Regions from separate parts of the Homo sapiens genome. Here all the other regions are linked to region 1. The links come from fine-mapping of genetic effects on gene expression. A gene starts in region 1. Each other region holds a variant in brackets. All regions are shown on one strand. Distances are between the middles of the regions.

Evidence for each region. PIP is the estimated chance that this variant, and not a neighbour inherited with it, causes the effect. A credible set is the group of variants that fine-mapping cannot tell apart.
Region 2: its variant is the best candidate, but not a certain one, in a credible set for the expression of STRIP1 in gastroesophageal junction (GTEx, PIP 0.70).
Region 3: its variant is the best candidate, but not a certain one, in a credible set for the expression of STRIP1 in whole blood (INTERVAL, PIP 0.73).

Annotation. Positions count from the first base shown.
Region 1 is chr1:110,031,746-110,042,297 of GRCh38, forward strand. STRIP1 (striatin interacting protein 1) reads left to right here and starts at 2,879. Exons shown (of 21, transcript NM_033088.4): 1 at 2,879-3,072; 2 at 6,146-6,215; 3 at 6,938-7,012; 4 at 7,427-7,561; 5 at 7,650-7,770; 6 at 8,890-8,958; 7 at 9,791-9,897; 8 at 9,989-10,116. The coding sequence starts at 2,893. LOC105378895 (a long non-coding RNA gene) reads right to left here and starts at 3,694. Exons shown (of 3, transcript XR_947693.3): 1 at 3,664-3,694; 2 at 1,604-1,686; 3 at 551-692. RefSeq lists an enhancer at 2,554-2,943 and silencers at 2,944-3,163, 3,404-3,473.
Region 2 is chr1:110,086,512-110,091,511 of GRCh38, forward strand. The region is part of intron 1 of LINC01397 (long intergenic non-protein coding RNA 1397); the gene reads left to right. Among named protein-coding and RNA genes, the nearest start is that of LINC01397, 6.3 kb to the left of the region's middle. The variant A/C (reference allele first, on the strand shown) is at 2,043.
Region 3 is chr1:110,064,550-110,075,101 of GRCh38, forward strand. ALX3 (ALX homeobox 3) reads right to left here and starts at 6,123. Exons shown (of 4, transcript NM_006492.3): 1 at 5,787-6,123; 2 at 38-354. The coding sequence starts at 6,063. The variant C/T (reference allele first, on the strand shown) is at 4,715.

The DNA.
Region 1 (10,552 bases):
TTTCCTAGCAAGTTAGAGTAGTGAGCTCTCCAGCTGTGCTTCTGCTCCTTCACATTTGGGATTCTTTTTCCTTCTAGATCTGTATATTCTGTCTTATGCATGCCCCATTCCATTAGTTAGCCATTTTTCTTTTTCAAAAATTTTTTTAATTTGATTTTTTTTTTTTTTTTTAGAGATAGGGTCTCGCTCTGTTGCCCAGGCTGGTCTCAAATTCCTGGGCTCAAACGATCCTCCCACCTCAACTTCCCAAAGTGCTGAGATTACAGGCATGAGCCACGGTGCCTGGCCCCTCAAAGTTAGCCATTTTCTTATTGGCTATTTTTCAAATTAGGTTGATCCCAACTTTACACTATTGAAAACACCATTGCCTGAATATTATCATACACCTATCTTTATCTAAATCTGATTATTTCCTTAGAATCTATTACTAGAAGTGGAATTATGGAACCAAAACCCTCCCTGTTCTAAATTTAGCTGAAAAATGTTTTTCCCCGGGTGATACAGCTTATGATAGGCACAGGAAGATAGGTAGGAGGAAATAGCAGTGTGGTGGTTTTGGATTAATTTATTAATTTACAACAAAGACTTTTTAAGCACCTACTAGGTTGGACCTCAGGGGAAATCACTGGAGAGTTGTATCACAGGGACTTTCTGGACTTGAGCCTGGGGTGTAAAGCAGGCAATATGTAAAGCTGGAGAGACAAAGATGGATAAAATGCCTTTAAGGATTTCACAGTATAACAACAGATAATAGTAAGAGTTATTATTACGCAACACTTCTAAGATGTCTGATGAGTATCTCAAACTTGATGTGTCCAAAACTGAAGTCTTGATCTTTCCTCTAAACCTGTTTTTCTTACTCTCGAGCTTACTTATTTATGAAAGTGATACAGCCATCCACTCAGTTGCCCAAACCTAGATCAAGGGGGTCATTGTTTATTTCCCCTACCCAGCTGATAAGATTCCAGCAAATCCTGTCCCCCTACCTACACAATATAGAAATATCAACCCAATGCTCCACTCTGGTACAAGCACCATCATCTCCATCTACATGGTCCCCTAACATGTCTTGCCTTATCCACTCTTGCAACTCTCCAATCCCTTCTCCAAAAGCAGCCAGATTGAACTTGTAAACATCACACCATAACATCTCCCTGGTTAACACCCTCGAATGGTTTTCCATTTCACTTAGAATAAAATTCAAACTCCTTCCCACTACCTTCAAGGCCCTGCATTCTTCTGGTCCCTGCATTATCATTATATGGCTCTATCAATTACTATCCCTCCCTTGGCTCACTCAATTCCAGACACTAACATCAGGGCTTTTGCATTTAGCTGTTTCATCTGTCTGTGTGCCCTTCCTGGAACTTTGCAGGGCTTCTCCTCACTTCTTTCAGAACTCATCTAAAATCACACCCTCAGGCCTGCCTTCCTTGGGCAGCATGCTTATATTATAGCCACATTCTCCGCCTCCACCAACCCCTGCCCCCCGCCCCACTGCCACCTTTTAACCTCTCAATTTTTGTTACTTCTGACAAAGATTCTCTTCTTTGGCCAAAACTCTAGTCAGGCTCCTGTGAGTCCTCTGCCTACTAGGACTAACCGTTTGGGCTTCCTTTCTGTCCTTGTTGAATCCAGTTTGTGCAGGGACTCTCCACTCTTGGCGTCTTAATCCATTTTTTGTTGCTATAACAGAATACAAAACACTGGGTAATTCATAAAGGAAAGAAAGTTATTTTTTGCAGTTCTGGAGTCTGGGGAGCCCAAAGTCGAGGGGTTGCATTTGGTGAGGGCTTTCTTAAACTGCATGGTAGAGAGCCTCTCACGGTGAGAAAGCAAGAGCATGTGTGCCAGCTCAGATCACTCTTCCTCTTCTTATAAAGCCACCAGTCCCATCACAGGGGCCCTACCCTGACGATTTTATCTAATCCTAATCACCCCCTCAAGGCTCCACCTCCAAATACCATCAACATATGAACTTTAGGATTGAGTTTCCAACGTATGGAATTTGGGGGACACAGTCAAACCATAGCACTCGGTATCTGACCACCCTCAACATCTTAGCACCCTGTCCTGCTTTCAGCAATAATCCTGTTAGGTCAGTTTAGCAAGAAACTTCTTATCCTTGATGTTTCTCTTAGTAGTTTTCCGTCCACTGACCCTCATCCTGCTCTTTGGTTATAAATCCCCACTATATCTTGTTGGAGTCAGAGTTGAGTCTAATTCCTCTTCTTCACTGCAAGATCTGGTTGTAGTGGTCCCTGTAACTATCACCATGGGCTCTCTTACATAAAGTCTGCCTTACCATCTTTAATTAGTGCCATGAACAAATTTTCCTTTAACACTTTTCAGCATTTATTTCTCTATATTTGTCTATTGTTTGTCTGACCCACCAAGCACTGTTATGTACCGTGACTGCAGACACTTGTTCCTCATTTTATCCCACTGCTTGGTGCACAGGAGACATTTATTAAATGTTTGTTGAATGAATGAATGACAAGCACTTGTCACAACGGTAACTCTGTGAAGACTAGGATCCTATCCATTTTGTTCATTACAAAATTCCGCCTAAGCCTTGAACAAGGCTATGAGTTATAAGTGCAAAGCGATTTAGAGGAAGGAGGGGTAACTAAACTGACTGAAGAAGCTAAGGGAAGCCTCACAGATAAAATTACATCTAAACTGAAACTGAAAGGAAGGTGGAAAACTAAAAAGATCAACAAGGGAAGGACTGCAGACAGAATATCGCGAGGTATTGGTCAGCCAAGATGGCTTCTAACACTGGCCGCCACACTTAATATGGCGGCCAGGGAAATTTCCTGGAGAAAATCACGCGAGAGTTGCATCACGGCGGCTGTGCGCGAGTTAAGCTGGGGGTGTGGAGCAGCCAAGATGGAGCCGGCAGTCGGCGGTCCGGGCCCACTGATCGTGAACAACAAACAGCCCCAGCCCCCGCCACCTCCGCCGCCGGCAGCCGCACAGCCACCACCCGGGGCACCGCGGGCCGCCGCGGGCCTCCTGCCTGGGGGCAAAGCCCGCGAGTTCAACCGCAACCAGCGCAAAGACTCAGAGGTCAGGAGCTTCGGGGGGCGAGGCTCGCACCGGGTCGGGCGGCGCCGGGGGTCCCGGGCCCGGGGCCACTCTAGGGGCCAGGTTGGGCTTCCCGGAGGGCTCGGTAGAGTCCGGCCGAGAACTGTCACTATACAGCGAAAGGAGCAGGAAGCGAGGCTGGCAGCTCCTGGGGTCTGGAGCATGAGTCCTTGCTCTAGCTCCGCCGCCCGGGAGAGCTTCCCGTGGCCGGCGACTGCTGGTTTGCTCCCCTGGGCCCCGACTGTGGGCGTGGCCTCGAGGCCCTAGCCCCTGGGGAAGCCGCTCTCGCCCCAGCTCGGGGGTGAGGAGTCGGGGGTCTTGGTGCACTCCAGGGCGCTGGGCTGCCGCGCCCCCAACCTAATCATCTCGGGCGTCTGTCCCTGGCACGCGGGCTCCAGCTCCTGGGTCCTGCCGCTCGCAGAGGAAGGCGCGTGTGGGCAGGGAAGGCGCCGGCGAGGATCTGGAAGGAACTTAGAGCCGGACCGAGCTAATTATCATTGAGAGTAGAGTAGGAGGGGGAAACATGTCCTGTTCTTCTGACCTGAGCCAGATCAGGCCATGGGTTAACAGTACCTGTGGTGGGCTATTGTGCCCAGTGCGCCTGATACTGAACTGTTAAAGATGAGAAATAGACATTTTAAGCATGCGTTAGGACCCAACATTCCTTCCTGTCTCGCTAGTGAGCCGTTCCTGCCGTTCTGGAGATGGCATAGTCTGGAACTGACTAGTAACCTCACCCCAAGTTAAGGAATTCCTCCCACTGCCTCCTTTTGCAGAATTCATGAATGAAGATACTCATGTCGCGGAGTTTTAGGGCTTCTTAATGAGCAGGTTCCCAGAGCACTTACTATGCCATCTCCTAGATTGATCAGCAGCCAAACTGATCAGCCAAGTTAATGAGAGGGAATTCCTAGTTGTCCAAGCATAATGTACCAATTCATACCAAAGAGCAATGATACTACCTTTAGACCTGTGGAATCAGTTCCTCAGAAGCTTTTATTTTTTGTTAGCAAGGCTAAACCCCTGAGAAAACATGTCAACAATTGGCAAGCCCGAAGTAGACGTAATTTGAGCTTGGAGTGAATTATTTGAAAAAAACAAAAACACTGACCATTTAGGAGCCCTGGCATGGTGGGATGACGGACATCAGTGTTAACTACTCAGTTTTTCAAGTGGAAGATTACGAAAGTGCAGGGGGGTGAACCTACCTTCATCATGAGAGGAGTTATCATTTTGAAAAATGGTTTAAAATTTTCCAGAGTAGCTACGAATGGTCAAATAGATACCCTCTGACGAATTGTAATTTCTCTTTGTACCCTTTAATTTCCACATAGAGGCCGGGTGCAGTGGCTCACGCCTGTAATCCCAGCACTTGGGGAGGCCGAGGCGGGCGGATCACCTGAGGTCAGGAGTTCCTGTCCAGCCTGGCCAATGTGATCAAACCCTGTCTCTACTAAAAATACAAAAATTAGCCGGGCGTGGTGGCTGGTGCCTGTAATCCCAGCTACTCAGGAGCCTGAGACAGGAGAATTGCTTGAACCTGGGAGGTGGAGATTTGCAGTGAGCCGAGATTGCACCATTGCACTCCAGCCTGGGTGACAAGAGCGAAACTCTCCCCGTCTCAAAAAAAAAAATTTCCTCATAGACTCATTACATGAAAGACCAGTCAAATGGACACATTTAAGCAGAGACCTGTCTAAATCCATTTCTTTATAGAGAGTCTGATGCCATGATCTTTCTTTAGTCATAGCTGAAATCGGTAGTTTGGGAGCCTGATCAGTGAATGCCTGGAGGACAGGGAGGCTCACATTTGATGAGAGCCCACTATGTACTACATAATTTTGATTAGTCCTTAAAAATCTTCAAAGTAGATTTTCATCATTGCCATTCAATGAATGAAGAAACCGAAGCTCAGTAACTTGTGAAAGTGTACACTGTGTTATCTCTGAACACAACGTGGAGTTCTTGTTTGTGGGTATGTTTTTTGTTTTGTTTTGTTTTGTTTTGAGACAGAGTCTCTGTCTGTCTCCCAAGCTGGAGTGTAGTGGCGCGATCTTGGCTCACTGCAACCTCCACTTCCGGGGCTCAAGCGATTCTCCTGCCTTAGCCTCCCGAGTAGCTGGGACTACAGGCACGCCCCACCATGTAAAAATATATTTTTAAAAAATTTTATATTTTTATTAGAGACGGGGTTTTACCATGTTGGCCAGGCTGGTTTCAAAGTCCTGACCTCAAATGACCCGCCCACCTCGGCCTCCCAAAGTGCTGGGATTATAGGCATGAGCCACCTCGCCTGGCCATTGTGGGTATGTTGTGTCATTTTGTGGCTGGTCTTTGTCTTCCCAGGTAGACTGTAATTAAACCTAAGGACTTTACCTATTTGTTTCTCACTTCTCTCTTCCCAGTACAAGGCTTCCAAGATGGTGTGTTCTCAGTAATCACCTATTTCCAGCAGGAAAAAGATTGTCTTTGTCACATTTTCTCTTATGTGTGGGAGGGAAGTTGATCTGTTTGGCGGCTGCCTTCTTTGTCAGTTCTCACTGAAATTTGAGACAAAGGTGGGAAAGCTGAGGGTTTCAATACTCATTTTTGTCCTGAGCTGTTGACAGTCCACTAGCCAGAAAGAAGTTAAGACTTCTGGAATCATAGCATCATATGGAATGGTCATTTACTGCACAAAATACATAGAAACCTTGTATTTATTCATTTAACAAATATGTGTGTATAGACCATTCATTCATTCACTTATTCATGCCAGGTACCATGCTGGACCTTGTGAAATCATTGGTAAGTTAAATGGATGATGTTCTTGTTCTCAGGGAACTTACAGTCTTGTGGAAAGGCAGACAGTAAACACATCCTATAATGATAAGTTATGATAAATGCTCTGAAGGAAAAGTATAGGATACTCTGAGAGGTTTTAGGAAACAAAATGTGAAAAAACATAAAAAAGTGGAGGCAGTGGTGTCCTGTAACACAACAGCATCTCGAAGCATGAGTTTCTTTGATAAATAGAATGATCCTTTTTCCTAAAGCTCTCTCCTCTTGTCAGCAGGGCTATTCGGAGTCACCAGACCTGGAGTTTGAGTATGCTGACACAGACAAGTGGGCTGCAGAGCTCTCGGGTAACGCACAGACCTTTGTGTTATTTGGGGGTGGTTTTTTCCTTATTGGTCTTTAATAAAATTAATAATGAATATCATTTAGGGCTTCATTGCTTTCCCTAGTTCTATCAAATATATATATATATATATATATATATATATATATATATATATGTATAAAACATGTTATTTGATTCAAGCCTTGTGTATCTTATAACTTTGTGTTGTCCTTTACTTTTATGAAGCTGGCTAGAGCCCAGTCCCATTGTGAGACAGTGATGTTCCTTGGCTATCCACTGTGACCCTGACAGTGGTCTCTCCTCCAGCAATGGGTCATGAGGGATGCCTGCATCTGTGCCCATCTGCTGCTGCCACTGCCACTCTCATGTAATGCGAGGTCGGTGTGAGCTGCTTCTCCAGCCTCTACAATACACATCCTGCTCAAGAGGTAGCAGCCATTTGAGAGATGCATCCCAGGTGGCCGTCAGCCCTGGCATGGCATGGTGGGATGGATGCACATCGGACTGGAAGTGTCCAGATGGCATTCTGGCACTCTGGTTGTCTCTATTGTGCACATCAGAGCACTAAGATCCCCTTCATAATTAGAGAGCTTATTCCAGGAGTCACTATGACTCAGGGGCAGAGTTGAGAGTGGAAGCAAATGCCTTGCCTTCTCTGCACTTGTGAGACCTGGTGTGCAATGCAGACATGGAACCAATGGTGACGAGACTTTGTTCTGACAGAGCTTTACAGCTACACGGAAGGGCCAGAATTCCTGATGAATCGAAAATGCTTTGAGGAGGACTTCCGGATCCATGGTGAGATGATTTCCCACACTTCTTGCTTCCTTTGCCCTGCATAACGAGAGCTGCAGGTTTCTTTTAGGCATCTGAATGACCTGAGTCATCCTGGAACAGCCTGAGAAGCCTGCTGAACCCTGATGGTTCAAAGCCAGATACATGTAGAGTGGGCTTGTGGCACATCGGTGGGGGCTTTTCAGAATGTGCATATTAGGGGAGAAAAAAAAATCATGTGATTAAAATTGCACCCAAAATACCAGCGTTTCAGTTTGGAATCAAATTCATAGAGCAGCAGTATGATCTTACCACTTACATAGGGTGTAACTTATCTTTCTGGTCCTATGGCAGTCCTGAATTTGGTGAGTTAACATGGGTCCATGCCATTGTGAGGATTTTTCTAGGCTCAGGTGTAACTGGTTTCTTGCCCTGCAGTGACAGACAAGAAGTGGACTGAGCTGGATACCAACCAGCACCGGACCCATGCCATGAGGCTCCTGGATGGCTTGGAAGTCACTGCCAGGGAGAAGAGACTCAAGGTGGCTCGAGCAATTCTCTATGTTGCTCAAGGTATTGAGTGGACCTCCCCAGGGTTCCCTGGCACCTCTGCCCACTCAGATGCAGGGAGGGGCTCAGTGAGTTGAACCCTGCATTGCAGGCACGTTTGGGGAGTGCAGCTCGGAGGCAGAGGTGCAGTCCTGGATGCGCTACAACATCTTTCTCCTCCTGGAGGTGGGCACGTTCAATGCTTTGGTGGAGCTTCTGAACATGGAAATAGAGTGAGCATTTTTGAGAGGCTGAGTAGGGAAGGGGAGGCTGGGATGGGAAGGGGGACAGAGCTTGCAGAACTAACTGGCTTTGAGAGGGTTAAATGGGGCAGAAGTTCTGGTCCCAGGCTGTGTTCTGACCACCTGGGTTGAATAACGGAGTTGGTCACTTACACCTTGAAGATTAATGGAGACTAATGACAGGTCCCTGCAGCTCCCTGATGCCAGAGTTTTTACACCAGACAGTGCAGGCCCTGCCCAGGCCTGGGGTGCTCCTCAGAAGGAGACTCTTCACTTTGAGCTCTCTTTTGAACCTGCAGACACTGCTGTGTTCGCCCTGCAGTTTCCGCCTTGGCAGGAGGCCAGGCACAAGACTGACATATGGGCTCAACCAGTGCCTGGCCTTGCCTGTGTCACCTTTGTCCAGTGGACAGGTCAGCTGCTGCTCATCTAAGGATAACACCATCAATGATAAAGCTAAGACAGCTCATTGAGTGCCTGTGTGTCCCGGGCATTGTTCTCAGAATATTACATGTGCTAATTCATGTTAAGGATATAGGTACTACTGTCATCCCCATTTTACAGATGAGGAAACTAAGGCGCAGTTAGAGCCAGGATTCAAACCGTGGCAGTCCAGTGCATGGCTGGGTTTTTTGTTTTTGTTTTTGTGTTTTTTTTGTTTTTGTTTTTGTTTTTGAGAGAGAGTCTTGTTCTGTTGCCCAGGCTGGAGTGATATGGCGTGAACTTGGCTCATTGCAACCTCCACCTCCCGGCTTCAAGCTATTCTCCTGCCTCAGCCTTCTGAGTAGCTGGGTTTACAGGTGCCTGCCACCACACCCAGCTAATTTTTGTATTTTTAGTAGAGATGGGGTTTCGCCATGTTGGCCAGGCTGGTCTCAAACTCTTGACCTCAGGTGATCCACCCGCCTCGGCCTCCCGAAGTACTGGGATTACAGGCATGAGCCACCATGCCCAGCCATGGTCTGGTTTCTTAACCACCGTGTCCTGTGGCCTCTTGTGCAGTCCAAGCACGTATCACAGCATTTTGTTTCCCCATTGGTCAGTACTTGTCAGGGACATCACTTATCTTCCTTCTTGGAGGAAGATGCTGACTCTCAAAATCTCCTGCAGCAACAGTGCCGCCTGCAGCAGTGCTGTGAGGAAGCCTGCCATCTCCCTGGCTGACAGCACAGACCTCAGGTGAGGCGAGCAGCAAGCCTGGGCTCCTGAGCGTTAGTCAGAGATGAGATCAGAGCAGGGTGTGGGAGGCTGTCTGTGGGTGTCATTGCTGTGTGTGCTTCTGTACACATCATCTGCATGTGTGATGGGCTCAGTGTGAATGATTAGTAGGAACTGCTGAGGGCTCGTCCTAGGTGGGACTCTGGGTTGAGACTCCCAAAGGCAATCCAGGGTCAAGTGACTTACTAGAGCCACAGCTAAGTGTGGCCTCCTACTCACACTGTTACTCAGGACCTGGTCGTGGGGTATTTTGTATTTGGATGAAACACTTGATGGTGTTCCCTGGACTCCCACCTTCTTGTGTACACAGCTTGATGCTCATCTTCATTGGGTTAGACCTGACAGCTTCCTAATGTTTCATGGCTGCCCAGGAGCTCACAGCAACTGCTGACCACCAAGATCACCCCTCAGTTTTTGAGGGTTGAAATCTGGCTCTTTTTATGAATTTGGAAGTTTTTAGACTAGGTGGTTGTAGTGTTGCCTCCCGGGTGTTAGGATCCCTGGGCGTCACCTCTCAGCTCCTGCTTTCCATTTCCTCATCATAAACCCTGTTTTTGTTCTCACTGTGACCCTGTTCTGCTTTGACCCTACAGCTCGCTACCACCTCTGTGGTTTTTTTCTTTTCAGGAAGCTTAGGGTGGTAAATGCTTTTGGCCATTCTTGTTCATACTCATTTATTCAGATACCATTTATTAATAGTAAGCCCCTGCTTTGTGTAAGCACTTTGTTAGACACTAGGGTGCTCCTTTGACCCCCCCATCCCACTCCATTGTGAGCTGGCTCTTGTCCTCAGGGTCCTGCTCAACATCATGTACCTGATAGTGGAGACCGTTCATCAGGAGTGTGAGGGTGACAAGGCTGAGTGGAGGACCATGCGGCAGACCTTCAGAGCCGAGCTGGGTAGGACCCTGGGGATCCTCTCTAGAGGCCCTGCCTGGAAGCTGAGGCGGAAGGCTTTGGGAGGGTCCTGATACCTTTGTGTCACCTCCAGGCTCCCCGCTGTACAACAATGAGCCATTTGCCATCATGCTGTTTGGGATGGTGACCAAATTTTGCAGTGGTCACGCCCCTCACTTTCCCATGAAGAAAGTTCTCTTGCTGCTCTGGAAGACAGTATTGGTGAGCACCTCCTTGGAGGAGGAGAACGGTGCTATGGGATGGGCAGTAGGGAGACTGTTCCTTGAATATCCTTTTGAATATTGAATTATGTGACTGTAAAACTGCTTTGGTAAAAAAAATTATTTAAAAAGCTGCTAAAAGGAGATGACAAAAGAAGGGCCACTATTGTCCCATTGCAGCCAACGAGGACATAGGCCTTGAGTCAGAGTAGGCTGTTGGCTCTCTGACCCCGGAAGCTGTTTTCTGTCATAGAACAGCTCTCCCCCAGACAAGTTGCCTCTCAGCAAGCAGCTCTGGACCTGGAGTTTGTAAAGGGATTTGAGGCAAAGTTACAGCTGATGTAATTGGGGCCCTGGTTGGATATCACTTAAAGGGGCAAGAGTGAGCCCTGAGCCAGCCTCCATTTTCTTCAGGGTATGGTGTCAGCCCGACTCTG
Region 2 (5,000 bases), 52 kb after region 1:
TATTCTTTCTGCATGGTGACAGTTTGCAGTATATAAACTTCATGCTAATGTCATAGTAGGTCAAATTGGTTCCAGCTGCTCTCCTGGAGACACAGCGGCGTCCTAAGGAGCACCAGAAGACCTTTCTTTCTTCCTCAAACATTTATGGAACGTTACTATGGGAAGGCACTGAGATGGATGCCAAAGTCAGTTAAACATCTCCCACCCTGGAGCTGTGCAGTGTCTACACCACTGGGGAAATGAGACATGTATGTCAGGAACTTAGGCAGAAGCCTGAGTGAGTGTGAAGGATGCAGGAGAGAGAGAGATAAACAAGTGGCTACAGCGTTCAAGGGCAATGAGATGACTCTGGCTGGAGACATCTGAGAAAGCTGTGTGGAGGAAGTAGTGTTTGCTCTGGGTCCTGAAGGACATGCAGGGTTAGGCTGCATGGTGATGGGGAATGTTAGACACTGTGGTAGGCTGATGGGGAGGATATCCTGAGGCAGAGACACTTTCTAGTGCCCCCTCCCCAAACCTGACCTGAGTGGTGGTTGGAACAAGTTCATCTCCTTCAGTACATTTCACCCAACATTTGTTGAAATGAGTAACCAAACTGGGCACGTGTTGGTCACTGGGCATAGGAATGGAGGAAACAGATTCCTGCCTTCCTGGCTCCTGATGGTGTAGATCGCATTCCACAAATCTGCCAGGGGCTAGTCAGGGCTGCTGGGGCAGTGGACGGGGAGGCCAAGTAGACAGTGGGCAGGCCCCACCTCCACTTCAGCCAGACCAGTTTCACTTTTTCATTTTTCATGTACTGGGTTTCCATGAGGAGTTTCCTTTGGACGAAAAGGGTGGTTTTGTGGCAGAGAGAGAGTGAAAGAAGGAAAAGCCCTGGTTCACAGGCACCTGTGCAGTATGAAAACTAAGTGAATAATCTCTGGTTCACAGGCACCTGTGCAGTATGAAAACTAAGTGAATAATCTCTGGTTCACAGGCACCTGTGCAGTATGAAAACTAAGTGAATAATCCCTGGTTCACAGGCACCTGTGCATTATGAAAACTAAGTGAATAATCCCTGGTTCACAGGCACCTGTGCACTATGAAAACTAAATGAATAATCTCTGGTTCACAGGGGCCTGTGCATTATGAAAACTAAGTGAATAATCCCTGCTTCACGGGCGCCTGTGCACTATGAAAACTACCTAAGTGAATAATCACTGGTTCACGGGCACCTGTGCATTATGAAAACTAAGTGAATAATGCCTGGTTCACAGGCACCTGTGCACTATGAAAGCTAAGTGAATAATGCCTGGTTCACAGGCGCCTGTGCACTATGAAAACTACCTAAGTGAATACTTAACGAAAGATTGAGAGCCTGTCAGTAACCAAAGACTATGATTAAGCCATAATCCAATTCTGGACACCTGAGTTTCCATTTACCCCTCCCGCCCTCCACCACGTCCCCCTACCCTGTCCCAGGGTGTCTTCTGTGCCTTTCCTGTGTGTCTGTGGCCTGTGGATAGAGAGTGTACCGGATCGCATGCTACCCTTTTCTCTGGCATGGTCTTCCCGAGTCCTGCTCTTTTCTCCCACGCCCCAGCTGGTTGGGAGTGGCTGGGTTCCAGCTATTCCCAGAACACTCAGGAATCCCATCCTAATGATATCTCAAAGCCAGACCCCAAAGACGGGCGTCCACTGGGCTGAGCTCATACTCCCTCTTCTGTAATATCCCATGAGTTGCAATATGATAAAACGCCACCAGGGTGCAGGACAGAAACATGGGGCTCTGCTGTCTGAGGGCCAGGCTTATTTTCCACATAAAGGGTGGAGAGCTTACTGTAAGCACTGCCCTGTGGCCCCCACCTGCAAGAAGCTTATGGTCCCTCAGTGGCTTCAATGATACAATCCCCTACTCCTTAACTGGGGAGAGGAGTCTGTTGGAGTTGTAGCTGGAACCCCAAGTCTCTTCCAGCACTGCTCCACTTCCTTGCCCCCACAGCACGTCTCTGTGTGTTTCACCTACTTAGCTTCTGCCCAGGGTCCCCACTGGCTTCTCC[A/C]CTGGCAAGGACCGAGGCCGAAGGAGCCTAGGCTTGGCTCTGCCTCCGCAAGAAGCCCCCAGGCACACATGAGGCATATTGACTCTTGTGGCTTCTCTTCATGTGGGACCTCTGAGGGAACAGGATGCTGGAGCCCAAGGCCAAGGCCTCTCTGCTCAGGGAAGACAAACCAGCTCCTGTCCCACTCCTCCATCCTGGGGACCCCCACCCCCACGCTAGACTGGGGTCTGCCCACAGGCCTGCCTACTTTCCCCAGCTGAGGAGAGGACAGGTCAGCCCCACTGTGCTGGGGCAGGGAGAATGCTGCTTGACAATGAGGCGTGCCCTGCGCATATGGGTGGGTGCTGGCAGTGGTGGCGGGAGGCTGCGAGCATTGACAGGTGACCGAGGGACCCCCATCTCCAGCTGGCCCTCAACACCTTAGCTCCTCAACCAAAAGACATGTATTAAGCACCTCCCTGCACAGGGCCCTATGCAAGGCACCATGGCAGGTGGGACAGTGATTTAGACACCATCCCCACGTGTGTCTGTGGACCCCACACGGGTGCTCTCATCTGACTCTGGCAGGCAGTTCTGTGTGTGGACCACCTAAGACTGTTGAGGGAGGGCTCCCTAGAAACATGCCCCGGGGGATGGGCTGGTGGGGCAGGCAGCAGGGGAGTAAGTGTCCCTTGTGGCTTTGAAGGAAGCATAATCTCCAAGCTCTGGGATAGCAGAGAGCATGCCTGTCGTTTCACTGCTGAATTCCCAGAGCCTGGCAGCAGGCCTGACACACAGTAGGCATTTTGTTAATGTTTGCTGAATGAATAACTAAGGGGGAGAAGTAAGAAGGCATTGAGACAAGGTGGTGGTTGAGCCTGGGACTCTGGAGGGGGTGCAGGTGGCTGGGTTCTGACAGTCCCCTAGCCAGGGCTGCTTCCTGGGTGACCAACCATCCCAGTATTTAATGGGAACTTCTGTGTCCTGGGAGGCTTCTCAGTCTGGGGCAAGCCTGGGTGGCTGGTCACCCTGCTGCTCCTCCCCTTGGGAATGGGCCATACAGTCAGTGCTCCCAGCCCTTTCCCTCCCTGGCCCTTCCTCCACACCCCCTTTCTCTTTCTTCCCTGCCCAGCGGGGTCTCCTCTCAGGAGACCTAGCCTAGCCTTGCCCCAGCCACAACCCCCCAGCCTGACCTCCGGGGCTGCCACTTCCCTTTCACTCGGCTACTCCTGATAAGGAGACTGGAAACAGGTTTGCCCTTTCACCTCTGCATATCTCTCCTCCAGCCTGCGGGTCCTCACATCCTGGGTCATATCCTGCGGGGGCCTGTGCACCACTGCATCAACCCCTGCTCACTTGCAGGCTACCAGCCCGAAGCTTTAGGTGGGAGAGGAGTGTGGGATGAGGGGCAGCAAGGCCATAGCCCTTGGGAGATGGGCCTCTCCTGTCTTGGCTGAGGACAGTCCAGGGGCCTGCTCCCAGGGCACAAAAGCTGGCTGGATAGGAGGGCTGAGCTGACTGATCCCTCCCTGGGATTTTGACTGACATTCTTGATGGAATTGACCGGATGTTTCTCCTTCACAAGAGACACAGCCTTAGGCAGGACAGCTGTGCCTTCCTCAGCCCAGCTGCAGCTGGAGGTGCTGAGAACCCAGAACCCACACTTCCTACTTTTGGTATAACATTGCTGGGCCAAAAGGTCTCCTGAGAAGGGCTGTGGGGGCTTCCACAGGGTCCTGGAGAGGCCGCAGGAGTCGCATCTGATTATCTCCTGACCTCATTCCTCCGGAGCTTTTGTCTCTGCTTGTGTCTGTGGACCCCACACGGGTGCACTCATCTGACTCTGGCAGGCAATTCTGTGTGTGGACCACCTAAGACTCAGAGACCCCTCAGGGTCGGCCCTAGGCCAGGCACTGAAACGTGCCAAAACCCACTCATTTTTGCAGAGTGCACCATCTGGGAACACTGCTGTCCAGAACTTCTACTCCCGTCAGAATGTGATCAGTTGCAGCTATTCTTTAAAAGAGTAATCAGTAATCTTTGCTGATTCAGAAGTCATTTCATGGATTTGCAGCATTTAGAGGGATACCATTGCTAACAACATCAATTTTGTGGCCTTGAGATGGTAAGAATTATCAGAGAACTTTTCCCTTTGGTGAAATCCCTGCACGGCAAATCCCAAAGTGGCCTGGAAGAGGGCAAGTTATCCACCTGCAGCCTGCAGGGAGCTGTGAAGGGAAGGGGGATGTTCCATCCTTGGTCTTAGGGTGGCTTGAGTGATTATGAGATTTGTATATGAATATGAGGCTCAGAGCTCATATATATATGTGTATATATATGTGTGTATACATATATATACACACATATACACACACACACACACACACATATATTTGAGACAAGGTCTCACTCTGTTGCCCAGGCTGGAGTGCAGTGGCACAATCTTGGCTTACTGCAGCCTCCATCTCCCAGGCTCAAACAATCCTCCCACCTCAGCCTCCTGAGTGGCTGGGACTACAGGAACGTGCCACCATGCCTGGCTATGTTTTGTATTTTTTGTAGAGACGGGGTTCTCACTTTGTTTCCCAGGCTGGTCTCGAACTCCTGGGCTCAAGCAGTCTGCCTGCCTCGGCCTTCCAGTGCTGGGATTTCAGGCAGAGCTCATATTTTTGTTTTAGCATCTTTTAGAGCTGTGTTTTTCAGACTTTAGTGACTTGAGTAATTTTCATGATTTTTGCCACATCTGAGTGTCACTTGTATCATTAACATTTTTCTTTAACTCATGCACAGACACACACACACACACACATCTTTTTAAAGGAAAATTTACATCCTTACTATAAATGGAACACCAGTAGTTATTAACAGTCATTATTAACAGAGTAGCTATAAAAATACATGAAACATAGTAATGTTATATTGTAGCTAGAGATGCCTGTGGAAGCCTTTTAGTCTCAGGTTTGCTTTCTTAAACAGGAA
Region 3 (10,552 bases), 33 kb after region 1:
GGGCAGCCAGAGAGCCCCATCCTTGCAGTGCCCTCACCTGTACCCGGGCCTCAGTCAGGTCTGTGCGCAGGGCCAGCTGCTCCCGGGCATACACATCAGGATAGTGGGTTTTCTGGAAGACCTTCTCCAGCTCCTCCAGCTGGAATGTGCTGAAGGTCGTGCGGTTACGACGCTTCTTGCTCTTGTTCTTGGCCAACTCCATGGAGTCAGGGAGTCCCGGGGAAAGAGGAAGATGCAGGCTGGCCAGGCAGGGGCCTGGGGAGCCTTGCAAGTTAGAGGGCCCGTCTCTGGGGCCCCCTCGGCAGTCCAAGGGCAGCTGGGGGAAGCTGGCAGCTTTGGAGGTCTTCTCCTCAGCTGCAATGGAGAACACAAAAGGGAGGATGGCAACTGAACCAGGGGCTTTTGTGGGTTGGAATGGAGGGAGGGGGAAGAACATTGACGCCTCAGTCTCCGCCTCCCCCTTCCTTTCCCTTCCCTTCCTCCTGGCAGCCACCCTCCATGGGAGCCTGGCATTTAGAGGCCTGCCTGCTGAGCCTCCAGCTGGGGAGGGGGCCCTGGGGAACTATGTGCTCTGTGGTCTGGGCGGATCTGCTGGGGCCAGAGTGGGGTTCATTTCGGGGAAGTGCTCTGTGGTGGTGCGTTCCACAGGGACGTGAGAGGACTGGCGCCACAGCAGGACCACCACCCTGGCAAGGCCAAGAATGGGGGCAGAGGGCGGGGTGAGGATGGGGTGGTTGACATCTCCTGCTCCTGCCAGAAAGTGCTTCCTTGTTCCTAACTCTGCAGGCCTTGGTTCCCAGGCCCTTATGCCCACGCCTCTGTTCCCAGGGCCAGGCAGGCTGTGGACGTGGGTGCTCAGACCACCTTTGGCTGGTCTGGCTGAGCTTTATTCTCTGAACCCCAGGTCTCAGGTCAATATCAAATTCCCCAGCTCTGGTGTAAGAAGGGCAAGATGGGACAAAGAAGCTTCCAGAGGGATTGCTTCTCTCCATTCCTCCTAAAATTGTGGTATCTGGGCAAGGACTTAAGCTCCAGCAATAGAGAAGCAGAGCTGAGATAGGCTGTGCTCAAAGAAGGAGAGTTGGGGACCAGTGTCACAACAGGGCACAGCCCCTGTCCCCATCATTCCCATCATTGACCACCCCCTCCTTCCTCAGGAGTTTCTAACTGCTCCCCCATTGCCTGTGTTTAACAGGCAGGGAAGGACTTGATTACAGACTGGAACAGTTTCCAGCAGCCCCACTCTGACATGCTAACCCCTACTCCAGAAGCTTGGCGGAGCCTCACCATGGTGGATCGACCGACAGAGCATGGTGAAAAATAGGTCACTCTGATTGCCCACACCCTCTCCCTCTGGCAAGGACCCCCAGCGGTGTCCCCATGAAATCCCTCCTCAACAGTCCACTGGGATGGCAGCTGAGACGCCACAAAGACGCCCCACTGACTCACACAGCCTCTTGCCTGGCTCTGGGCCCATCTCCAGTGGAGGCCTGGCCCTGAGGAGGCCCAGCTAGCTGGCACAAGAGGCAGTGTCTTCCCAGGACTTGGTGTCAGGATCACAGCTGTGGTTGGGGGAGGATGGGACTGGACAAATGGGCCTCTCAGGATCTGGGTCTGGTGAGTCCCTGTCTGCACTGTGAAGGACAAATGGGGCAGGGTCCTCCTCAGCTGGAAGGTGGTCAGTTACTTTCCAGGACTACCCAGGCCATGAGATAAGCTCCTGGTGTGTGTCCTGGAGGACTGGGAGAGTCGAGCAGGGCTACCTAGCCTTGGACCATGCCCAGCCTGTACACAGGCCTGTACACAGGTAGCCCACAGCTACAGCCCAGGGACCAGGGCTCCTTCACAACTCAGGTGGAGCACAGGGGAGAAAGTGTTCCAGTCTCTGACTTCCATTCTTGGGCCAGCACATTTCAGGTTTAGAGGCAGTTCCATTTGATAGAAGCTTAGGAAGGAAGACTCACAGAAGTTGAACCAAATAATTGAAAATGATAGGAAGACTAGGGACACTGGAATGGGACATCCCCCCCCCCCGCCCCCGCCACCCCCACCACATGCATACACACAGCAGGCCATGGAAATGTTCAGCCTGAGAAGAAAGAGTCTTGGTGTCTTGTGTTTGTAGGGAGGCTGTGCTGGACTCCAGGCAGAAAAGGGGTGAGGGTAGCTCAGGGCTGAGGGTCAGGGCTGGGGTTCAAGAGTACTGACATCCTGGCAGAGGCCCTCCAAAGCCCTGGGGCTTGCTCATCTGCCTCTTGGGTCTCAATAGGACCTGCCCAGAAGAAGGGACCAGATCTGGGGCCCTGAGACTTGCGTTCCCGACCTTGAGCCACCAAGCTGCCAGGGACAAGGGATGAAAGTGCAGTAGGACTTCTCAGAGCAGCTTCCCCAAAGAAGAGGCTAAGCCTGCTGACCTATGCCCAACTCCCATGCCTGCCCAGTCTACAGCCCTCTCAAGGGACCACGGAACTGCTCTCCTCATTGTCATTGCCCTGAAACCTCCTTGATCTACCTGGAGAACACCAGAGGGAGGGTGGCATCCCTCCACTTTGGGAGAGGGGCACTCCTCAGAGAACACAGAGCAGCCTCCTGAGGAGCAAGGCCCAGAAGAGGAAAGGGATAGAACTGGGACAAATGGAAGGCAGAAGCCAGGAAAGACAGGCCAGGAATAGCAGCCAGCAGCTTGAACCTAAGCTTGTAAAGGAGTGAGGGCTGCTCTGCTGAGCACGGGGCACATCTGAGGTGTGTATGGATTGTGCAGAGGAGTCACTGCACCTGATCCGGACACTAGGTGGTTAAGGCGGGGTACTCATGTTGGAGACAGCCTGAGACAACGCTGGGGTGTCTTCTGCCTGCATAACCGCAGGGCCACAGCAGCAGCTGTTGGGCGTGAAAGCCAGGAGCCTTTTAACGTAGTAAAGGAGCTCTCTGTCCCTGACCCAGCTCTCAGGCCTGCCGTACCCTGAGCACCCCTCACCCGGAGGAGTGCCAGAGCCCCTACCAGCGGCTGCTTCTAAGCCACTGTGCAGCCAGGAAGCAGCGCCGCAGCAGGCCCGAGTGCTCCACTGTCCCCACAGAAGGCATCCATTGAGACCGCGGGACCAGCCTTGGCTTTCACATTTCGCTGCAGCCTTGTCCCGCGCCGCACTGTTTCCTCCGGCCACTGTGGGGTCACTAAGCGACCTGCAGAACTCGCTGAGGCCCAGGCTCCTGCAGCTCCCGCCGAAGACTCAAAGCCAGAGTGGACATAAACGCCGTGGGCAGGACCCCGGTGAGGCCTCGGTGCCCTTCTTGGGGGTTCTCAGCGTTGGCCCAGAAGCCTCAGCCCGGGTCTAAGAACTTGGGACTCTCCTCGACTTTGGCGATCGGCCGGGTCATCCGGCTCAGGGCCTCAGCGGCAGCGGGCAAAACTCTAGTAGGAGTCTCTTGCCGAGGGCGTGTTTCGACGTCAGAGCCAAACTCGGGACAGACTAGCCAAGCGCGGACGGCGCGAGAGTGGCTGGCAGCGCCAGCACGCAGCCTGGGTTCAGAGCAAGGCTGGGCGCTCTCAGCAAAGGGCGGCCTGGGGCTGCGCGGGCGGCGGACTGCAGGCGGGAGAAGAGCGAGGTGCGCCAGGCTCTGGGGCGCGCAACTGCCCAGCCTCGTGAAAGATCGCGCCGCAGATGGGGCGCAGCTGCGCGCTCACTCGTGTGGACTGGAAACGCTCCGAGCCGGTTATTTTAAAAACCGGGAAATAAGGCGGGTTCCCTCTTCGCCCGCCACTTCCCACCAAGTAGGCTGTGCGGCCCTGGGGGCTGACTGTCCTCAAGCAGCCAGGCTCCACCGCGCGCCGCGCTGCGCCGAGGTCCGCTCTGCCGCAGGGACGCTGGCAGCCCGTTGAACACCGGCAAGAGCGCCAGAGGCTAGCGGCCGCCAGGATCTCTACCAGGCTCTGCTCGCACCCGCCTGCCTCCCTTTCGTTTGGCCTGTCCTCCGTTCAACTGAAATCGTTAATTTTCTTACCCCCTTGTTCTCATTTTGATATATTCTACGCTTTAAACATGCTCCGTTTTCTTTTGTTTAGTCTGCTCCCTCCCTCTTTGTCCTTTCCCCCTTCTCTAGTTATCCGTTTCGTTCGATCTTGCTCCTGCTTTTTTTATTCGTTCGTTCCTCATTTATTCATTTTAGTTCATCCCAGCTCGCCGACTGCCATTTACCCTCTCGTTCTCGCCGCGCTCTCCGTTGTTTTGTTCAATTTCCCTTCCCCTTTTCTTGGTTGTCGCTCGCTTTCTTTGGTTTTCTTTCTCGGTATTTCGTTGTCAAGGCCACCCTTGCCGTCGGATCCCGGGGTGCTGGGTTTCTCCCGGCCGCTCGTTCCGCACCAGCGCTCTCTGCAGTTCGCGCGGCACCGGTGTGGTCCGGGGGCCCGAGCTGTCGGTGCCGGATGCGGCGCGCCTAGCAGGGACGCGGGCCTGGGGGGGTGGCTCCTGCCCGACGCGGAGCGCTGAGCCAGGCCGGGTACCTGTCTCTGGCGGTGCTCACCGCACTGCGCGGCCTCTGCCGTCTGGCTGGGATCAGAGGAGCCAGGCCAACTGCTTCTCATTAAGTCCCAACTGTGGTTTTTATCAGGAAAGCCTCTTTCAAAGGGCACAGACACGAAGCTCCGCGGACTCGTTCATTTCCTCCGTTGACCCACACACACCTCCCCGCCCTCCCCTACACATTCCCACCGCCC[C/T]GGCTGGGCGAAAGCCGGAGATGCCCGGCCACTCCGTGGAGGCCCGCGAGGCGCCAGCCGGGCGGCGGCAGGGGGTTGAGGCGGATCTTGGAGGATCCAGTTCTGGGCCTAGGCTGCGGGATATGGCAGCGCAGATAAGGTGGGTGCAGTGCGGAAGCCGAGACGCCTTACAGGTCATAGGGTGCGGCGGACGGCCGCAGAGCTGCCGATCAGCCTGCCAGGCCCCTGCCTTCAGGCGCATTCTCGGATGCCGGCGCGGTCCAGCCGGCCTTAGCACAGGGCACCGGCCCGTGAGCCCGCGGCGCCAGGGGGTTAGGCTGCCCAGGGCTGCTCCTGACTGCCCAGCGGTGATGATCCAGCGCGGGGAAGCCAAGACTGCCAGAAGGGCGGCTATCATAGTGCATAACGGCAGGGAGGCCAGCTTAGTATGAGAAATAAGAATACAGTTATTCCGTCTTGAGGACAGCCCTGGCATTGCACGACCAGTCGCGGCCAGACTGTGCCAGTCTGCCGCACAGGCAGCACCCTTCCTGTGAAGGCTAGGCCCGGGGAGGAGAGACGGGCCAAGACCAGGCCGCAGTCCCCAGCCGACCCCGATTTGACCACTCTAGGTTGAGGCCCAGCCTCAGGGCCCTCAAAGGGCGCCAGACACAAAAGCCGCGCTTCTTCGTCAGGTCTCAGTGTGGCTCCACAGCCCTCGGCCGGGTCTGGGCTTCAGGGTAGGTGGCAGTTCCAGTCCAACTTCGGCAGAGCATGCTCTCTCCTTCCCAGGTCCAACTGCTTTCGGGCCCCGACTGGACTCCGGGCCGTCGCCACTGCACCTTCCCTCGACCTCCCGCCTTCCATTCCCGCCGCCGAGGAACGGTGGTTCACCCTCCCGCCCCACACTGGCCTTTGCCTGGCCCGGGCCAGCGCCAACCCGGCTTCCGTGGAAGCCGTGGCGAAAGGCGAGAGGGGCAAAAAGTTGAGAAATAGGCGAGCGGGAGAGATAAGCAGGAAGGCCCGGGTGGGCCCGGGTAAGGAAGAAGAAGAGAGGGTCGGGCTGCGCGCTACGCCCCGCGCCGCGCGTTACCTTCCGCGGGGCCCTCGTAGAAGTGGCCGCCGTTGAGGGCCGGGCCGGGCCCGAGGTCCTGCAGGTACTTGGCGGGCGGCTTGGCCGGCTCTGGGAGGTAGGGCTCCAGGGGCCCGCAGGCCGGAAAGCGGGTCAGCCGCGGGCCGCGGGGCGGCGCGGGGTGCAGGTGAGGCGCAGCGGCGGGGGTTCCCTGCGGGCCCGGAGGCTCGTCCCCCGAGGCCACATAGGGGCCGGGTGCAGGCCCCACGCGGAAAGGCGCGCAGTGCTCGGGGTCCATGCCGGCTCAGGGCGCACAGGCCTCCGGGGCTCCGGGGCTCGCGCTGCCCGCGCCGCCTGTGAGCGCCCGCCAAGGGGGAGGGACCTGGGCGCGGGGGCGCGGAGCCCCCGGGAGCGGCGCGCGCCGCGGGGGGCGGGGGGCGGGGGGCAGGGGAGGGGGCCGCGCCTCTGACTTAATGCTGGAACCATCCACGTCACGTGTGGCCCCGTGCGGGTTAACCCCTCGGAGCCCGGGAACCCCCTCCCCCCATTCACCCAGAGCCCAGTCCCAGGCAGCTCAGGAGAGGATGAAGCAGCTTCCTCTCTAGGGCAGGATCCCTTTGTCTACCCATCCAGGTGAGTCTCTTGCTCAGAGCAGCACCCGTGGTCCTGATATCCAGCCTAGAGGCACTTGCCCCTAGAGGGGTGAGGCCGTGTGGGCATCCCCCCCAAACACTTTTGGGCCTGGACTCTGGACATCAGCCTGGGATGAGGGCCTGGGCGGGCAGACAGGCAGGCCTTAGGCTGCAGTTTTACTTAGGTCTCCGCTAGGAGCTGGACAAAATGTTGCCTCAGCAAAAAACACCTCCCTTAGAGATCTCTTGTTTCTCACAGTGAAAGGAGCTATTGGGAGTGTTGTGTGGAAGCAGATCTAAGCTGGGAATGGGGTGCTGGGGAGCTTGGACCTGGACACTATCATTAATTAGCTATGGTTCCTTGCGCCAATCATTAGTGTCCTCATCTGACTGTGGAGGTCGGGCCAAGCCAACCCTGGGTCTTTCTATGTATTTGAGGTGTGTTTCAGAAGTAGAGACAGGGCCAGAGCAGACAGGGAGACTCCCATGGGCAGCTCAGGACTGAACAGTGTCCTGCAGGGGCAGCCTTTGGAACAGGTGGAGGATGAGCAGAAGGGCTGGTGTTTCCTCTGGCAGCAGCTTGGAGTGAATGCGTTTCAGTGGGCAGATGACCCAAGTGTCTGGGGACCCACTGGAGAGACTGTCTGCAGCTCGGACCTCAGGGCTGTGCTCCCCCAGGCCTGACGATTCAGAAGGGATGAGGGTAGAACTGCATCTTCTAAGAGCTGAGTCTCCCCAACCAAAAGGAGACAGGATTAGAGCAGTAGCTTAGAATTTCAGAAAAGAGAAATAACCACCACCCTACCTAAGATCTGGGGAGAAATACCCAAGGACCCGAGGACCCTGCTCACTTCCCATGGATTGAGGAGCCCGTGGGGCTGCGTTAAACTGTTTTTATTATCAATGCCCCCGGAGACTAGCAAGAGAGGTGGGGAGTCAAACATCATTTGTATTTCATTTGAATTCTCAATTTTTAAAGGAATCCAAGAGGCCTGGTGTGAACACCTCCCTCTTCCGCTGGGGGCTTAGAAGGGGTTTCTTGGCTCCTCAGCCAGAGTTGGGCTGTAAATCAAGACCAAACAGGAACCAGAAGCCTTGCATCTCACAAGGAGTCATTAAGCCGTTATTAAACATACCATAACTTCTCTGAAGACTTATTGGTTTCAACACCACCTTGGAGGCATTATGGCCATTAGGGCCCCTAATCACGGAATGCAGACTGGCCAGAGAGATGGGAGCACCTGGGGCTGGTATTTCTAGTCAAGAGGGAGGCTCGGCTTGAAATTAAGCTTCCCTTCTGGCCTCACCAGAGGGATCCTTTCTCCAGGATCTAGTGGATCCAGCTCTGGGCAACCAATTTGAACCGATCACCTTTGCCCATTAATAAGGTTTTTCAATAGTTGTTGATTGGATATTGTTTTCTTTTCTCTCTTCCCCATACCTGCGAAATTGGATATTGTTGACTTTCTAGGAGGACATCAATTTAGGATACCTATTCTATTCAACAGTTATCAAGAAGTTTACTATGGAGGATGAAAATATCACCCAGGAAAATGTCACCAACAATTTAAACAAGGCAGCCTGGATCAAAGGCTGAGTCTTCTGCCTCCCATGACAACCTTGCTGAGCCTCAGTTTCCTCATCAGAAAGGTGGGCCACACATGGAAGTAGGGTATTTGCAAAGCATTCGTGTTTTGATGCACTGTGTTAATTTAATAGATGCTGATGATGATGGTGATTACCATCTCCAGTGGGTTCCATCACTGAATAGGTGAAAGGCTCCTGACTTCAGAGTGAATGGGCCTAAGGCTGGAGCTGAGCAGAGAGACACAGGGACCTGCATCCACTTTCAAGCCCAGAAATTTCTCTTGACATTCTCCCACTCTCTGAACAGAGCCAATTTCCATACTGGGATGGTGTTACCAATTAAACTGAGGAGAGAGAAAACCCTAGATTACATGAGAGTTTTGTGGGTAAGTGGAGTTGACCTTCCTGGGAGAGTTTTCTTCCAGAACCACACAAATCAGCACACGGGGAGGAGACTTTTCCACTTGTCTTTTAAGCCGTTTGTGTAAACTTTTATCTATCTGTATGTGGTCCGGAAAGAGTTTGATGGAGCAGGTGCATAGAAACCTCAAAAACAGCAATCTCAGAGTTAATAAATTTTCCTTCTTAGGGGGGCTGGGAGATCATGGAGTGTCACAAAGGCCCTCATATTATAGGTAAAAACAACAGCTAACACTTACGTATACCTACAGTGTGCTGGGTGCTAGCTCATGTATTCTACGTACATTGGTTTATTAATTTTTATTTTATTTTATTTTTTTTAGATAGAGTCTCACTCAGTTGCCCAGGGTGGAGCACAGTGGCCATGATCTCAGCTCACTGCAACCTCCACCTCCCAGGTTCAAGTGATTCTCCTGCCTCAGCCTCCCGAATAGCTGGGATTACAGGCATGTGCCACCATGCCTGTCTAAGATTGGTTTATTTAATCTTCACAGCTCTGTGAAATAGGTACCCTGTTTTCTAGAGAAGGAGCCTGAGGCCAGGAGGGAGCCATTTGTTCAGGTAGACACAGCCAGTTAGTGCCAGAACCAGAATTTACACTCAGATCCGCGGTCCCCCACTCCACACGACTCCTCAGTCCTTCTTCAGTTAACGAAGCTGAAATCATTCACTGTGCACCCTCATTTTCCCAGTGGGAAGGCTGGGACTCCTTCCAGAAAGGAAGGCTGAGGCCAGAGTGGCCTGGGGACATTGCACTGCTGCCTTCATGATCAGCAAATGGCATCTGTTGAGACTCGTATGCCTAGCTGCGGCCACTGATACAGTAGGTAGAGGGTGGTTTCTGCTAAGCTGAGACCAAATGAAACAGAGTGCTTAACACTTGAGAGGTTTATGACCAATGCAGCCAGATGTGGGGCAGAATTTTAAGGGAATTTGTGAATTCACCATTTGTGCTGTTTAATAACCAACTGAATTATAACAGCATTTGTCACTGAAAAATTGTCCATGGAGTAAGAGATGAGTGGATGGCGAGATCCAGATAATTCCAGGCCCTGTAATGAAAAAACTGAACAAAACCCCTCTCCATCTGCTAAGAAGAGCTACGTTTTAAATGGAAATGATACTTACTAGCTGTTTTACACCAGCTGAATGTTTAATTCATTCATTTAACAGGAGAGCCTACCATGTGATCCCCATTTGCTGGTACCAGGATATAGTGGCACACACGACATGTGATCCCTGCCTTCACAGTGCTTACACTTTGCTGGAATGGAAGTGTCTCATCCACGTTGAAGAAAATCATCCTCATTTGGCTGTGAATTAGAATAGAATCTGGTCTTGTGAGAAGAGTTCCTGGCTCTGGGCCTCAACTGTAAGGTCAGTTCTTCATTTAGGGAAACATCAGCCCCAGCACCACTTTCCGTTTCATTCTCTGCTTCCCTCAGCCTGCACCACAGGAAGGACATGTGCTTCTTTTTCCCCCAGTGGATTTCCAGAAGGGATAGGGACGATGAGAAAGAGGTAACCTCAGATCTGAGATTTGCTTGACATACACAAAATTTCCTTCCAACAGGGAAAACTCAGTTGCTTTTTTTCCTTCAAAGGAAAGACAGTTGGTATTACCTTTGTCCTGTTTAGATACTGAAATCCTAAATTGATTCATATAAAAATTCTGGGTTTGGGAACCCAAAAGATTGTTTCTCATTAGTGACATTCTTCCTGGAAGGGCAGGCTGAGGAATGGTAAATAAACCTGTGGATCTGGTGCTTCCTCCTCACTCATGATCTCAGACAGAGAGAGAAAAAGACAGAGAGAGAGAGAGAGAGAAGAAGCAAAATGATAGGAAAAGAAAAGAAAAAATCTTTGTGTTGTGGACACCCAGAATCCTTGGCTGTGATTCTAACAACCCAGGCTGAAGTCTGCTTTGGAATAAGATTTGTGGGATGTTTTTTCTCTTTCATTGATTTGATCTGTTTCATTGGGAAAGACACTTAACCTCTCTGTGCCACAGGTTCTTATGTGAAAATGGGAAGAAATGAGTCTGTACTCCAGCTTTATGGGAATGAATGTGATAGTAATTATACACATGTTTCTTGAGCCTGAATCCACCACTGAACCTATGGTTTTCTGCTCATTCTCTCTGCCCAG